2 linked regions of the Homo sapiens genome follow. The protein of the gene in region 2 interacts with the protein of the main gene of each other region in a pairwise test. Each region holds a gene or a part of one and is shown on either strand. Other genes may lie near its edges.

Region 1 (7,040 bases), on a different chromosome or scaffold from region 2:
AGGGAAATTTTATTGGTTTTTATAACTGAAAAGTCCAGACTTATCTTTCCATCTCTCAATTCTGTTTTCTAGTGTATGTTGGCTTGGTTTTAGGCTAGGCCTTTTCTAAATGGTGTAAAGATGGCAACTCTATCTTACTGGCTTATCAACTCAATCAGGAGAAAACTCACTTTTCCGTAGATTCAGCTGAAGTCCTGAAGCTGGTATTCATTGACTCTGTTAGGCCTCCATAGTGTCTTGTGCCCACTCCTGGATCAGTTGCTTTGGCTGGAAAATGCTGTATTCTTTTTAGCCTGGCCAGACTTGTATGTTCATTCCTGGGGCTAGTGGGTGAGGTCAACCCCTTCTGAACTGGTCAGCCTCTTCTGGATTGAGTGGAGTGGATACCCAAAGGAAAAAAATGAATGTGATGTTTTAGAGAGAGAAATAACAAGAGCTCAATATACTTTTTGCATTCCTCTGGAATTTGTGGTATTTTAGGATGGAAGTAGAATGGTGGTCAGCTAACAATAAGACAATTCTTGGTGTTTTTACATTAACTACAGGTAATAATTAAACTTGTGCGGTAATTACATGGGGAAAATCCCTCTCATTAATTTCAATACTAAATATGGTATCTTTCCCTTTTTTTGCATTATTAAGCTTACTGAAATATACATAGCAAAAAATAAAATACAGAAGGCCAGGCGCAGTGACTCATGCCTATAATTCCAGCACTTTGGGAGGCCGCGGTGGGAGGATCACTTGAGGTCAGGAGTTCGAGACCAGCCTGGCCAACATGGTGATACCCCGTCTCTACTAAAAATCCAAATAACAGTTCAATTCCTTGAAGCAGTAAAGCTTTGAGCTGCACTGAGAGGAGACTAGACTGCCTAAGTCATTACAGCTAATTAGCCGTTAGCTCTTGTGTGGAAAAAATGGCAGAGGAGCATGAAGCAAGTGCTGAAGATGCCTCAGAATTGTCAAGAAATGTTATAAATAATCTCTTTCTCTGGTAAATAAGGGTAACTTTTTCGACCACATTAGCTTTTTTTTTTTTTTTTTTTTTTTGAGACGAAGTCTCGCTCTGTCACCCAGGTTGAAGTGCAGTGGCACAATCTCAGCTCTCTGCAACCTCTGCCTCCCGAGTCCAAGCAATTCTCCTGCCTCAGCCTCCTGCCTCCCAAGTAGCTGGGATTACAGGCACCTGCCGCCATGCCTGGCTAATTTTCGTGTTTTAGTAGAGATGGGGTTTCACCATGTTGGCCAGGCTGGTCTTGAACTCCTGACCTCAGGTGATCCACCTGCCTCAGCCTCCCAGGGTGCTGGGATTGCAGGCATGAGCCACTGCACCTGGCCCACATTAGCTTTTGTTGATATGATCCTGTGAGGAGTCTTGCCTCAATAAACCAAAGGTAGACCAAATGTTCTTTTTTTCTTCCTTTATACCCCTACTCCCGCTATTTCTAAGGTCTCTGTCCTTATAGCAGTTCAAGATCCTTATGAACAAAACATTCATACCCTTTGTCTCTTCCCACCCTTTTCAGTGTTGTATTTAATATTTCTATGTCATGGCCTTAAAATTTCAGAAAGGGGAGAAAGCCTTTCAGGGAGCCCTGTTTATTCTGTTGTGCCACTGAGTTCACTTGGTCTTGAATGAGGAAATGTAATCAGAAGAGTGTGAATGCAGGCTCAGCCAGCTCTACTAAACACCTTTGAGGTATCTATATTTCATATTACACAGTAGACCTGACCGTTGGAATTCGTGTTTCTTCAGTATTATTTTAAGAAATCAGGTAAACAGTGAAGGTTAGATATAGCATGAAGCAAAGACCATTTAATTTTTAGTGGAAGAAATATCAGTATTTTTAAGCCTAGAAATAAATAGATTGCTTAATCTATGTTAAAAACCCACAACATACAGCTGAACTGCTTCCAGTCCTGATTTGCCAGAGTCCAAATCTAAGATATGGGCTTTTACTTAATTTATATGTAGCTGAGAAATATCCATCCCCAGCCCTAAGTCATAGAAGTCCCTTGTCCTCACCCCAGTGAATGAGAACTAGACTGCCAGCTTAATTCTTGGGAAATCCATAATTCTTGTCTTATTATTTTTCAGTGCCACATTGTTATTACAATTAGTAGGTGAGTTCTCTCTTTGACTTCAATAATTCTTTCTACTTAACCTGTTTTCTTAAAGGTATTGCAAATAAAAGTATATCAACAGATTAATGCATTCCAGCTGAACGTTTTAGCCTTTTTAGTTTCAGCTATCCACAAATCAAGCCACCGAGTCCAGCTGGTAGGTTTGTAACCATTTTGCCAAAAATGTCTTGAGTTTGGGGACAGGAATTGGAAAATCTTAACCCAAAGTATTTTAAAATGTATTGTATTTGAGAAATGGGAAAAGAAACAACCACAGGTATATTACAGCTATTGTGTCATCTGCCCTCTTGTGTCTAATACCTGTCCTTTGAACAGCCTCTCCCACTAGGTCTGGATGGAGGATACCTTAAAGTGAAATGACAGACCAGGAGAATAACAACAACATCTCAAGTAACCCCTTTGCTGCTCTTTTTGGCTCCCTGGCTGATGCCAAACAGTTTGCGGCAATCCAAAAAGAGCAGCTGAAGCAACAATCTGGTAAGTGGAGGAGCCAATAGCAGCAAATAAGATGACCTAGAATGGGGTCTTCCCAAATTAAGTATTCTTTGAGTCCTTAATTGCAATTGGAATTTAAGTTTGGAACAAAAGTTGGTTTTTGTTTGTTTGTTGAGAGCAGAAATTGGGGTTTTTTGTTTGTTTGCTTTTATTGTTGGTTTTGTTGTGAGTCCCTCCCCTCCGCTGTCCTCTCCACTGTACAAAAAGAGACCAGGTAACAGGTGGTTCCATAGTAACAGATGCCAGTCGTGATCCCAAAGCTGTCAGGCTGTTTTCTTTAAAAGAAAAAAAAAATCACCTAGTAAAAGCTATTTAAATAAATGTTTTTAACATGGGACACAGAGGTGGTAAGTGTAGGTGTAGAAAGCAAGTCATGTGCAGCTATAGAAAGCAGATGTAAAAGGAAGAACTATAAAAGCTTTTTGACCTGTAGGCAAATGAGACTTGTTCTTAAGCTCAGCACTTCAAAGGCCCTCCCAAGCAAAGTGCTTCTTCTGTTCCGATGAGTGGCATCATTTGTAGCTTAGTCCTGTTAGGACAGACTTTTTTAAAAAATCTGATCCTTAGCCTTACTATGAAAAACATCAGAATAACATCTCAGTAATCAGAAAAAATGGTTTTCTTTCAGGCACCGAATTTAAGATCAAGTCCAGCTTCCTCCTATAAGGAGACATATACACTAGAAGAATTAGGATTTTTCTCAAATATGTTAGTCTTCTGAAGATATTCACAATCTTTCAAACCAGAAATTGCTCCCCTTCTCCTCTCTCCGAAAAGAATAATAGTGTTTTTCTTTTGAGAGAAGGAGAAGTGTTTGCATTTTCCCTTTATTTTGTTTATTTAAAAAAAAAAAAAACACTCAGGTGCATAGCTGACTTTTGGCCTTTCAGTTAGAAAGGGCTGAAGAAAAAAGAGGTAAAGGCAAGACAGATAAGTGATTGATGCAAGGGAAAAACAAAATCAATGTTGATTTTTTTTAACATGGTATTTTCAGTCTCTGAAATCTCTCCCAGATTTCTATGATACGGGGCCAGAATGGGAAACTCTGGTTTAGAAGATTGTAGGGGAAAAAGCAGAGTGAAAAATAGGAAAAATAAGGAATGAGAAAGTATGATTTATGAGTATGTGGTTGAGGGAAATTTTGCTAAACAGATTCTTAGCTTCTGTCACCATTGGAGGTCAGAGAAAAACTCAACAGTATAGCAGCTGAGCAACAGAACGCTTGTCCTTCTGGCTATAAACAGACATAAATCTGGCTAGAGTTGGGAGCATTGCAGGCACATGCCCTTCTGTTACTATTTTGGCACCTCATCATCCTAGTTTGTTTACACTGAGTTTATCATGCCACCAGGTCCAACCTGTTTCCACTAGCAATTAGTACTTTGCCAAAACCTTTGGCTTCCTATGTTGAGCTTATACTCACCACACTGAAACAACTCTTACTTTGAGAGTTTTACCTGGACTTTCAGACTAGCCATTCTGTCAATAGAGAAAAGTACATATAGACTCATATGTGGCATATAGTGAATAACACTACTTTTATGTAGTCATTCAACATGAATGATGGGGCTGGGCGCAGTGGCTCGCGCCTGTAATCCCAGCTCCTTGGGAGGCCTAGGTGGGCAGATCACCGGAGGTCAGGAGTTCGAGACCAGCCTGGCCAACATGACAAAACCCCGTCTCTACTAAAAACACAAAAATTAGTCGGGCATGATGACAGGCGCCTATAATCCCAGCACTCTGGGAGGCCAAGGTGGGCGGATCACCTGAGGTCAGGAGTTTGAGACCAGCCTGGCCAACATGGTGAAACCCCATCTCTACTAAAAATACAAAAATTAGCCGGGCGTGGTGGTGGGCGCCTGTAGTCCCAGCTACTTGGCTGAGGCAGGAGAATCACTTGAACCTGGGAGGTAGAGGTTGCGGTGAGCCGAGATCACACCACTGCACTCCAGCCTGGGCGACAGAGTGAGAGTCCATCTCAAAAAAAAAAATCAAAGGATGGGAGCAGATTTTGAGGACAGAAGTTTAAAAAAAAAAAAATCGAAGGAATTTCATCAATAAGAAAAAAATAACAAGAAAGAATAAAAAGGTACAAAAGATGTGACATGCAACTTATAACCAAATGATTAAAAAATTTATTCTCATCAATCATTAGAGAAGTGCCAATTAAAACAACCATTAAATTGTTTTTTTACCTATGAAATTTGTGAAGATTCAAACAGGCACTCTCTCATATACTGTTGGGTTTGCATGTAAATCAGACAGTCTCTTTGAGGGTAACTTGGTAGTAAATGTTAACTTTTTTTTTTTTTTTTTTTTGAGACGAAGTCTTGCTCTGTCACCGAGGCTGGAGTGCAGTGCAACCTCTGCCTCCCGGGTTTAAGCAATTCTCCTGCCTCAGCCTCCCGAGTAGCTGGGACTACAGGTGTGTGCCACCACGCCTGGCTAATTTTTTGTATTAGTAGGGATGGGGTTTCACCATGTTAGCCAGGATGGTCTCAATCTCCTGACCTCGTGATCCGCCTGCCTCAGCCTCCCAAAGTGCTGGGATTACAGGTGTGAGCCACCGTGCCAGGCAGTAAATGTTAACTTTTTAAATGTTCAAGCTCTTTGATCCAGCAGTTCTGCTACTGTGAATTTATCCTATAGAAATACTCATACAAGTAAACAAAAAGAGTTAAGTTGTATTGTATTCAGTGCAGTATTTAAAATCATGAAATATTAGAAACAACCCTATTGTTCATCAGTTGAAAAGTAGCTACATAAACCACAGGGCATGCAAAAGATGTGATACAATACAGCTATTAAAAATAGTGAGGTAGGCCTCTAAATGGCCTAACAGGGAAAGGTGTTGGTGCTGATTAAAAGGCAAGCTGAAAAGAGCTATGTATAGTATCCCATTTTTTAAAAAAATTAAAAAGATAGTAATGAATATTAGCACCAGAAAAGAAAAAAATTCTTGAACACTGTTAAGTGTCTTTAGGGAATTGGTTCAGGAGACTTTCTATACTATATTTTTCTGTACAGTTAAGAACTATTAAAACAAATGTTATCTCTTAAAATCAGGGAGAAAAGCCATACATTTAAAATAATTAAAGGCATTTTGATCTATTAGGTAATTCTTTGTTCACTAGGATTCTGTAGAGAAGATAACTTTGCTATTTCTGGCAGTGTGGAGTATAATTATGGATAGAAATAAAACTTTTGCTTTGTAAAATGTGGTAGGATTTATAGCCAGGAATTTCAAAACCCTATATTTAACTTCCCTGACTTGAGATGTTCACTAATTAGATGATTAGCTTGTTTTACATCTGAAATTATCATCTTCTTGGTTACATTTATTATTTTTGGTAGCATGCTTGGTTCTCTCTTAAAGGGGTGTAACATTTAACAGTATACATTTTCTGGCAGATGAACTCCCAGCTAGCCCAGATGACTCGGATAATAGCGTGTCAGAGAGCCTGGATGAATTCGATTACTCTGTGGCTGAGATTAGCCGCTCATTCCGATCACAGCAGGAAATATGTGAGCAACTCAACATCAATCACATGATCCAAAGGATCTTCCTTATTACTCTGGACAACAGTGAGTTACAAACTTATAGCATTATTCTACCCTTCCTATTTGAGCTTGGGCTAGGGGCTTGCTCTTTGAAACTGGTTACAGCTAATGGTTAGATACAAACCTACTCACTGCACTCCCTGGAACTCAGGGTTTATATTTCAGTGAACCTTTTGGTATGACCTAAAAACAGTATTTAGATGCAGATCTAACTTTTGTTCCCATTTCAATACTGACTGCACTATATAGCTACTTGCCTTTACTACCTTAAAAAGGAAATGGGAAGGGTAGCCAAACCCATTTTCTTCTCAGAGGTAACCTAAATATTCAGATGGAAGCCTTCAGAGGCATCAGAGAGTGTTTGCCCTCTGTGCCCTGTCTGTGTTTAAACCCCAAGGTTGGTACTAATGTCTGGGATTTACTCTTTAAATGTCATGATGCTAGGTTTATAACAAATCCCATTCTCTGTGACTAGAGGGGGAAAAAAAAAGATTTGAATCTTTAGATGTTGCTTTGTGTATCAGGATCATTCTGGTATTACTTGAGTCAGATTTGCAGTTCAAGAGTGATGCTGTCAAGATCAGTTGTCTGTATAAAACAGAAGCATTATCCTTAACCTATCATATTAAAACCATTTCCCAGGTGATCCCAGCTTGAAAAGCGGGAATGGCATCCCTAGCCGTTGTGTGTATTTGGAAGAAATGGCAGTAGAGCTAGAAGATCAAGACTGGCTTGATATGAGCAATGTTGAGCAGGTAATATTCTTACGTTCCTAATGTGTGCCCTTAGCAAAAATTAGCTATGCGGCTGAATTCTGCTCACTGTTCTCCAACTTATGC
Region 2 (7,040 bases):
AGCTAATTTTTGTATTTTTAGTAGAGACGGGGTTTCACCATGTTAGCCAGGATGGTCTCGATCTCCTGACCTCGTGATCCGCCCGTCTCGGCCTCCCAAAGTGCTGGGATTACAGGCGTGAGCCACCGCGCCCGGCTATTGGGCCCTCTTTTAAAGTTATTTATGTAGTACTTTTTTAGTGTACACTCACACGAAATGAGAGATACCATTGGGAGCTGTCAAATTAATATGTCCCTCTGGAATGGACTGCTTATAACCACAGTATACATCAGTGTTAAAAACCAGCTTATAATCATTCTCCTCAGCCCCTATGTGCACAGAGATGTTTCAGCATGAAATATAGTACCTTCTTTCTCTTGCATAAGATTCCCTCTTGACTTCCATTTCTGCCTGTTTTGCTAGCAAGGCAGCAGCTTTGGCAGCCTCTACTTCTTCCTTTGTCTTTGCAAAACGAGCAGCTCTCTCTGCACGGTCCTTTAAAACATCATTAAATACCAATTACCTTTACTGCCAGAATGGTTAATTCACACAATTCCAAACAAATATGCATGGAATTTTTTTTTTTTATTAAGAGACAGGGTCTTGCTGTGTCATCAAGGCTGGAGTGCAGTGGCACAATCATAGCTCACTGCAGCCTCTGAACACCTGGGCTCAAGCAATCCTCCCACCTCAGCTTCCAGAGTAGCTGGGACTACAGGTGTGTGCCACCATGCCCAGCTAATTTTTTTTCTTTTCTTGTAGAGGTGGGGTCTCACTTTGTTGCCCAGGCTGATCTTATACTCCTGGCTTCAAGCAATCCTCCCACCTCAGCCTCCCAAAATTCTGGGATTACAGTTGTGAGCCACTGTGCCTTTGCTGCCTGAAATTGTCTAACACCATATGTGAACTTTAACATTCTGGAACTGTTATTTTTTAGTTTTATCAACTGTCGGAGACCAGAATTATTATTAAGGAAACAAGGAAATGAATTTGCTCACTACTGTATCTCCAAAGCCTGGAACAAGGTCTGGTACATAATAAATGCTCAACAAGCCTGGGTGTGGTGGCTCACGCCTGTAGTCCCAGCACTTTGGGAGGCCGAGGTGGGTGGATCACCTGAGGTCAGGAGTTCCAGACCAGCCTGACCAATGTGATGAAATCCCGTCTCTACTAAAAATACAAAAATTAGCTGGGCATGTTGGCATGCACCTGTAACCTCAGCTACTTGGCAGCCTGGGACAGGAGAATTGCTTGAACTCGGGAGGTGGAAGTTGCAGTGAGCCAAGATTGCGCCACTGCACTCTAGCCTGAGCAACAAGACTAAAACTCCATCTCAAAAATAAATAAATAATAAATGCTCAACAAATACTTGTTGACTGACCAAATGAACAAAAATATTAAGGTAGGGATGGCTTTTTTTCTTTCTTTCTTTTTTTTGAGATGGAGTTTCGCTTTTTGTCGCCCAGGCTGGAGTGCAATGGCACCATGTCAGCCTACTGCAACTTCCACCTCCTAGGTTCAAGTGATTCTCCTGCCTCAGCCTCCCAAGTAGCAGGATTATAGGCGCCCACCACCACACCCGATTAATTTTTGTATTTTTAGTAGAGATGGCGTTTCACCATGTCGGCCAGGCAAGTCTTGAACTCCCGACCTGAGGTGATCCGCCCTCCTTAGCCTCCCAAAGTGCTGGGATTACAGGCGTGAGCCACACCTGGCGGGATGGTTTTAATATGTATTGCAGCTGATGAATTATAAAAGCAATTGTTGCAAACTAAGCTTTATGATGTGCCTAAATCCTTTCAATGTTGCAAAAAAGTGTGCCTGTGACTACAGAAGAACTACTAGGTACTTAGTACTAGTAGTTACTACTAGTAGGTACTTAGTACTAGTAGTAGGTACTAGTACTTAGCTTATTTTCTAGGGAATCTTTAAAAGCTGCTTTTTGAATGCTGATAAAAGTCATAAATTAACAAAATATGAATAAAAATCACTTCAAAAAAATCAACTCAATTTTAATCTTAACTATTTTAATTCATTTACAATTTCTAATAAAAGGAAGCTCAGGATTGGTAGTCTATGAGTCACTAAAATCTATTTTTGTGTGCACAGTCTGGTAGTAATCTAAAGCTACTGTGCACAGAAAAACAGTTTCACGAATGTCTGGAAACTTAAGACTTACCAATGCAATCTGCTGTTTTATACGTTCTCGAGCTGCCCTATCTTCTGCTTTCTCTCTGTTTCTTTCCTCCAGCATTCTTTTTGTTAATTCTTCTTCTTGTTTTCTTTTATAATCCAACATTTCTTTTCCAGTTTTTCTCCTCTCAATTTCCTTCTTAATTTCTCTCTGAATTAAAGAAAAAGTTTTATGATCCAAAAACTTGATAATCTGCCCCAGATATTATTTTGAATGCAACGAAAACTGCAGTTAAAAGAATAAAACTTCATAAAATGTAAGTCTAGACGAGTTTATTAATGGCATGGTTAATGGTCAAATGTCTATCAATCTATAAATCATTGCCAATGGTCTGTTAAGATAATAATGTAGTCAGTGTAATTTGAAGGCAAGCATAATTACAGGTCTTTAGTCATGAGGGTAAATATATTACCCTTCAGGGACAACATGGCAGTCACGTATTTGGCTTGAATGAAATGGTAACCTTCCTATATTAGAACTCCAAAGACATGCTACACAGTTAGGTATACATGGTGAGAAAAATGAACCATGTGCTAGAATGCTTAACAGGAGAGGAAAAATTCAGCAAAATGTCTATACATTTTTTCACAAAAATGAACTAAAACTTTGTTCAACCTCAAGCCAAACATTTTAGCTCAAGTCCCTTTATTCTTAGTGTAAAAAAAAATCATTGCAGAGGGAAAAAGCATGGTCTAATTTATTCATAGTAATTTACGAAAAGAACACAAAAAATGTATATACTATGACTCTACTAGAGAAAACAGGAATTATCTTCATAGTGCTGCAACACTGAACTAAAACTATGAAGTCACCCTAGGCCTGCCACACTGAATAGAATAATCAATCACAACCTCAGTTAATGAGAGGACAAAACAATGCTAACTGCATGAACTTTACCTGTTCTTCCTCTTTTCTTTTCTCTTCTCTCCTTTCTTCAAGTTTTTTTGTTAGTCTGTATTAAAAAAAAAAAAACCACCACTAATTGAGACACATCATATTAATATAAAACACATTTAGGAGATGGATTTAGCTAAAACAATTGGAGAAATAAAGAAACAAACAAACAAAAAGCAAGCAACTATTTATCTGCCTGGCTTCAGGCCCCTACAGAAATCCTGGAGTCAACGAGAGCCCATCAGAAGCCTAGCTTCATTCTAAATGCCTCACTTCCCACTTATGATTAGTTTCCCTTTTTTTCTGATTTACCTGATATTGACTTTAAAATCTACAAATACATTTTCAAACAAATACATAAATCAGTGACTTATAAATGCTCTACTCCTTATATAAAACTAAACAGCACTATGGTAAAAAAAAAAAAAACCTGTAAAAATAAAAACTTAAGGCCAGCAAATTATTAATACCAAATTACTAACACCAACTTGATTCTCAACTGTAAGAAGTTCATCAGTTAAAAATGAATGGAGGCTGGGCACAGTGGCTCATGCCTGTAATCCCAGCACTTTGGGAGGGCTGAGGTTGGTGGATCTCTTGAGCTAAAGACCAGCTTGAGCAACATGGCAAAACTCTGTCTCTACAGAAAACACAAAAATTAGCCAGGCATGGTGGCGTGTGCCTGTAGTTCCAGCTACTTTAGGGGCTAAGGTAACAGAATTGCTTGAGCCGGGAGGTCGAGGCTGCAGCGAGTCACGTTCGCGTTACTGCATTCCAGCCTGGGTGACAAAGGGAGACCCTGTCTGAAATAAACAAACAAATGGAGGCTGGGTGTGGTGGCTCACATGTGTAATCTCAGCACTGCAGGAGGCTGAGGCAGGAGGATAGCCTAAGCCCTGGAGTTCGAAACCAGTCTGGGTAACAACTTGAGACCCCATCTTTACAAAAAATAAAAAATCAGGCTGGGCACGGTGGCTCAAACCTGTAATCAATCCCAGCACTTTGGGAGGCCGAGGCAGGCGGATCAATTGAGGTCAGGAGTTTGAGACTAGCCTGGCCAACACGGCGAAACGCTGTCTCTACTAAAAATAGAAAAACATCTGGGCGTGGTGGTGAGCGCCTGTAAACCCAGCTACTCGGGAGGCTGAGACAGGAGAATCGCTTGAACCTGGGAGGCGGAAGTTGCAGTGAGCCGAGATCATGTCACCGTACTCCAGCCTGGGCGAGAGTGAGACTCCGCCTCAGGAAAAAAAAATAATAATATAAAATCAGCTGAGCATGGTAGTGTAATGCAACGTAATGAAACCCCATCTCAAAAACTAATAAAATCGGCCAGGCACGGTGGCTCATGCCTGTAATCCCACCACTTTGGGAGGCCGAGGTGGGCAGATCACGAGGTCAGGAGTTTGAGACCAGCCTGACCAACATGGTGAAACCCTGTTTCCACTAAAAATACAAAAATTAGCCAGGTGTGGTGGCATGCGCCTGTAATCCCAGCTACTCAGGAGGCTGAGCCAGGAGAATCGCTTGAACCTGGGGGGCGGAGGTTGCAGTGAGCCGAGATGGTGAAACTGCACTCCAGCCTGGGAAACAAAGTGAGACTCCATCTCAAAAAAATAAAAAAATTTAAAAAATAAAATAATGATTCTGAAATTAGACAGTGGTAGTGGATGCACAACCTTGTGAATATACTAAAACTCACTGAATTGTACACTTTCAATTTCATGGTAGTGAATTATATTTCATTTTTTTAAATGAAAATGGTATTTTCTCTAAAAGTGTTTGGTGTATACCAAACTGAACAATGTGTGCCAGCAATCAAGGGAGTGAGTACTGTCAAAAAGCCAGAAGACCCAATATGAAGGGGATTCCAACAAGTCAAATTTGGGGCAATTTGTGCACCAAAAAGAATAGAGAAATGGATAGTAACACATGAGAGAAAAAAAAGCATCTGTGACATGTCTTAACTGCTAAGGGGAACTGTAAATTGGCCTAACCACTTTGGAAAGCTGTTTGATCACTATGTATAACCCAGAAATTCCCGCTTCTTCATATATATGCCCAAAAGAAATGTGTACACATGTTCACCAAGACATATACAAGAATATTCCTCATAGCAGTTCTATTCAAATAGCCCCAAACTGAAAACAATCCTAATGTCCACCAACAGTAGAATGGATTAATAAATCAAGGTAGAGTCAAACAGAATACTATAAAGCAATGAGAGTGCACCAATTACTGTGACATGCAACACGGATAAGCCTCAAAATACAAAGCTGAACAAAGGAGATCAAACACAAAAATACACGTTGCATGATTCCATCACAAAGTTCACAAACAGACAACTAACCTACAGTGTTCGATTCAGGATAGTGATCATCTTATGGAGGGAATCCATAATTGGGAAGGGGCATTAGGAAAGCTTATTAGGCACTGTTAATTTTCTTTCTTTCATTTTTTTTTTCCGAGACAAGGTCTCACTTTGTCGCCCAGGCTGGAGTGCAGTGGCACGATCTCGGCTCACTGCAACCTCTGCCTCCCGGGTTCAAGTGATTCTTCTACCTCAGGCTCCTCAGTGGCTGGGACTACAGATGCACACCCCCACGCCCAGCTAATTTTTGTATTTTTAATAGAGACAAGGTTGCACTGTGTTGGCAAGGCTGGTCTTGAACTCCTGACCTCAGGTGACCCGCCCACCTTGGCCTCCCAAAGTGCTGGGATTACAGGCGTGAGCCACCATGCCAGACTAGCACTGGTAATTTTCTATTCCTTCATCTGGGTGCTGGTGTCCAATAAGTAGTTTACTGGAAAAAGGGGGCGGGGGTGGGCAGATGGAAAGTAGAGGGGGTAGATCAAAGCATTTCTCTACAGAAGAATGCTAGCTGATAAATGTAGAAAAAAACAGAATGAGAAAAATACCACAATTTTTAAACATCAATGAAATAGGTGATTACAGCAAAAATCAATGAATGCTGAAACCACCGGGTGAAGTTTTTAAGCAGTAGGATATTTACCATTTGAATCACCCCATAGACAACTTATATATTAGAAAATGAAAAGGGTACCCAACAGACAACATCCTAACCAAATAATTAAACTTTACAGCTCCAATAATGCATACATCTCATATTACTTGTCTCCTGATATGAGTAATGGAAAGGACAAAACATTATCTTGGTAATGTTCTTATCAGAGTTTAACCTGAATCTAATGATAGAACAGGGAGCAGATCAAAGGACATTGTAGAAACAACTAACCTAGACTCTTCAAAATGTCTAAATCATGAAAAATGCAAACAAGAAGTGTCTTGGATTCAGAGCCTAAACTAAATGCAATGAACAATCCTTGACTGGATCTTGAATCAAGGGAAGAAAAGTTAAAAGGGCCATTATTGGAGCAACTGGGAAATCTGAATACGGACAAATTAGATAATCTTACTGTATCAATTGAGAATTTCTTGAGTATGATAATGGTATCGTGCTTGTATCTGAAAATATACACCATCTGAAAATGGTGTATAAACGTATTTATAGACCATCTGTAGAATTTTCTTCTGAGAAATACAAACGCAAGTTTGTTTTAATTTGGGTGAAAAGCTACACTGCATCTAATTTAATAACAAATTGACTGTTCCATAACTTCTACATTTGGGCTTCGACTTTTTTTTTTTTTTGAGATGGCTTTTCTCTCTTATTGCCCACGCTGGAGTGCAATGGCATAATCTCAGCTCACTGCAATCTCTACGTCCTGGGTTCAAGCAATTTTCCTGCCTCAGCCTCCCAAATAGCTGAGATTACAGGTACCCACCACTACGTCCGGGTAATTTTTGTATTTTTAGTAGAGACAGGGTTTCACCATGTTGCTCAGGCTGGTCTCGAACTCCTGACCTCAGTTGATCCACCTACCTCGGCCTCCCAAAGTGCTGGGATTACAGGCATGAGCCACTGTGCCGGGCTGGCATCTACTTCTTAAT

The links.
Region 1: the proteins of UBXN4 (region 2) and UBE4A interact in binary tests that used the Homo sapiens proteins (3 or more experiments, as listed by UniProt).

Annotation. Positions count from the first base shown.
Region 1 is NC_000011.10:118,362,580-118,369,619, forward strand, and holds part of UBE4A (ubiquitin conjugation factor E4 A), read left to right. Parts: intron 1-2,460; 5' UTR 2,461-2,501; coding exon 2,502-2,622; intron 2,623-6,051; coding exon 6,052-6,225; intron 6,226-6,843; coding exon 6,844-6,956; intron 6,957-7,040.
Region 2 is NC_000002.12:135,765,854-135,772,893, reverse strand, and holds part of UBXN4 (UBX domain-containing protein 4), read right to left. Parts: intron 3,126-7,040; coding exon 3,071-3,125; intron 2,324-3,070; coding exon 2,159-2,323; intron 475-2,158; coding exon 347-474; intron 1-346. UniProt on the Homo sapiens protein: Involved in endoplasmic reticulum-associated protein degradation (ERAD). Acts as a platform to recruit both UBQLN1 and VCP to the ER during ERAD.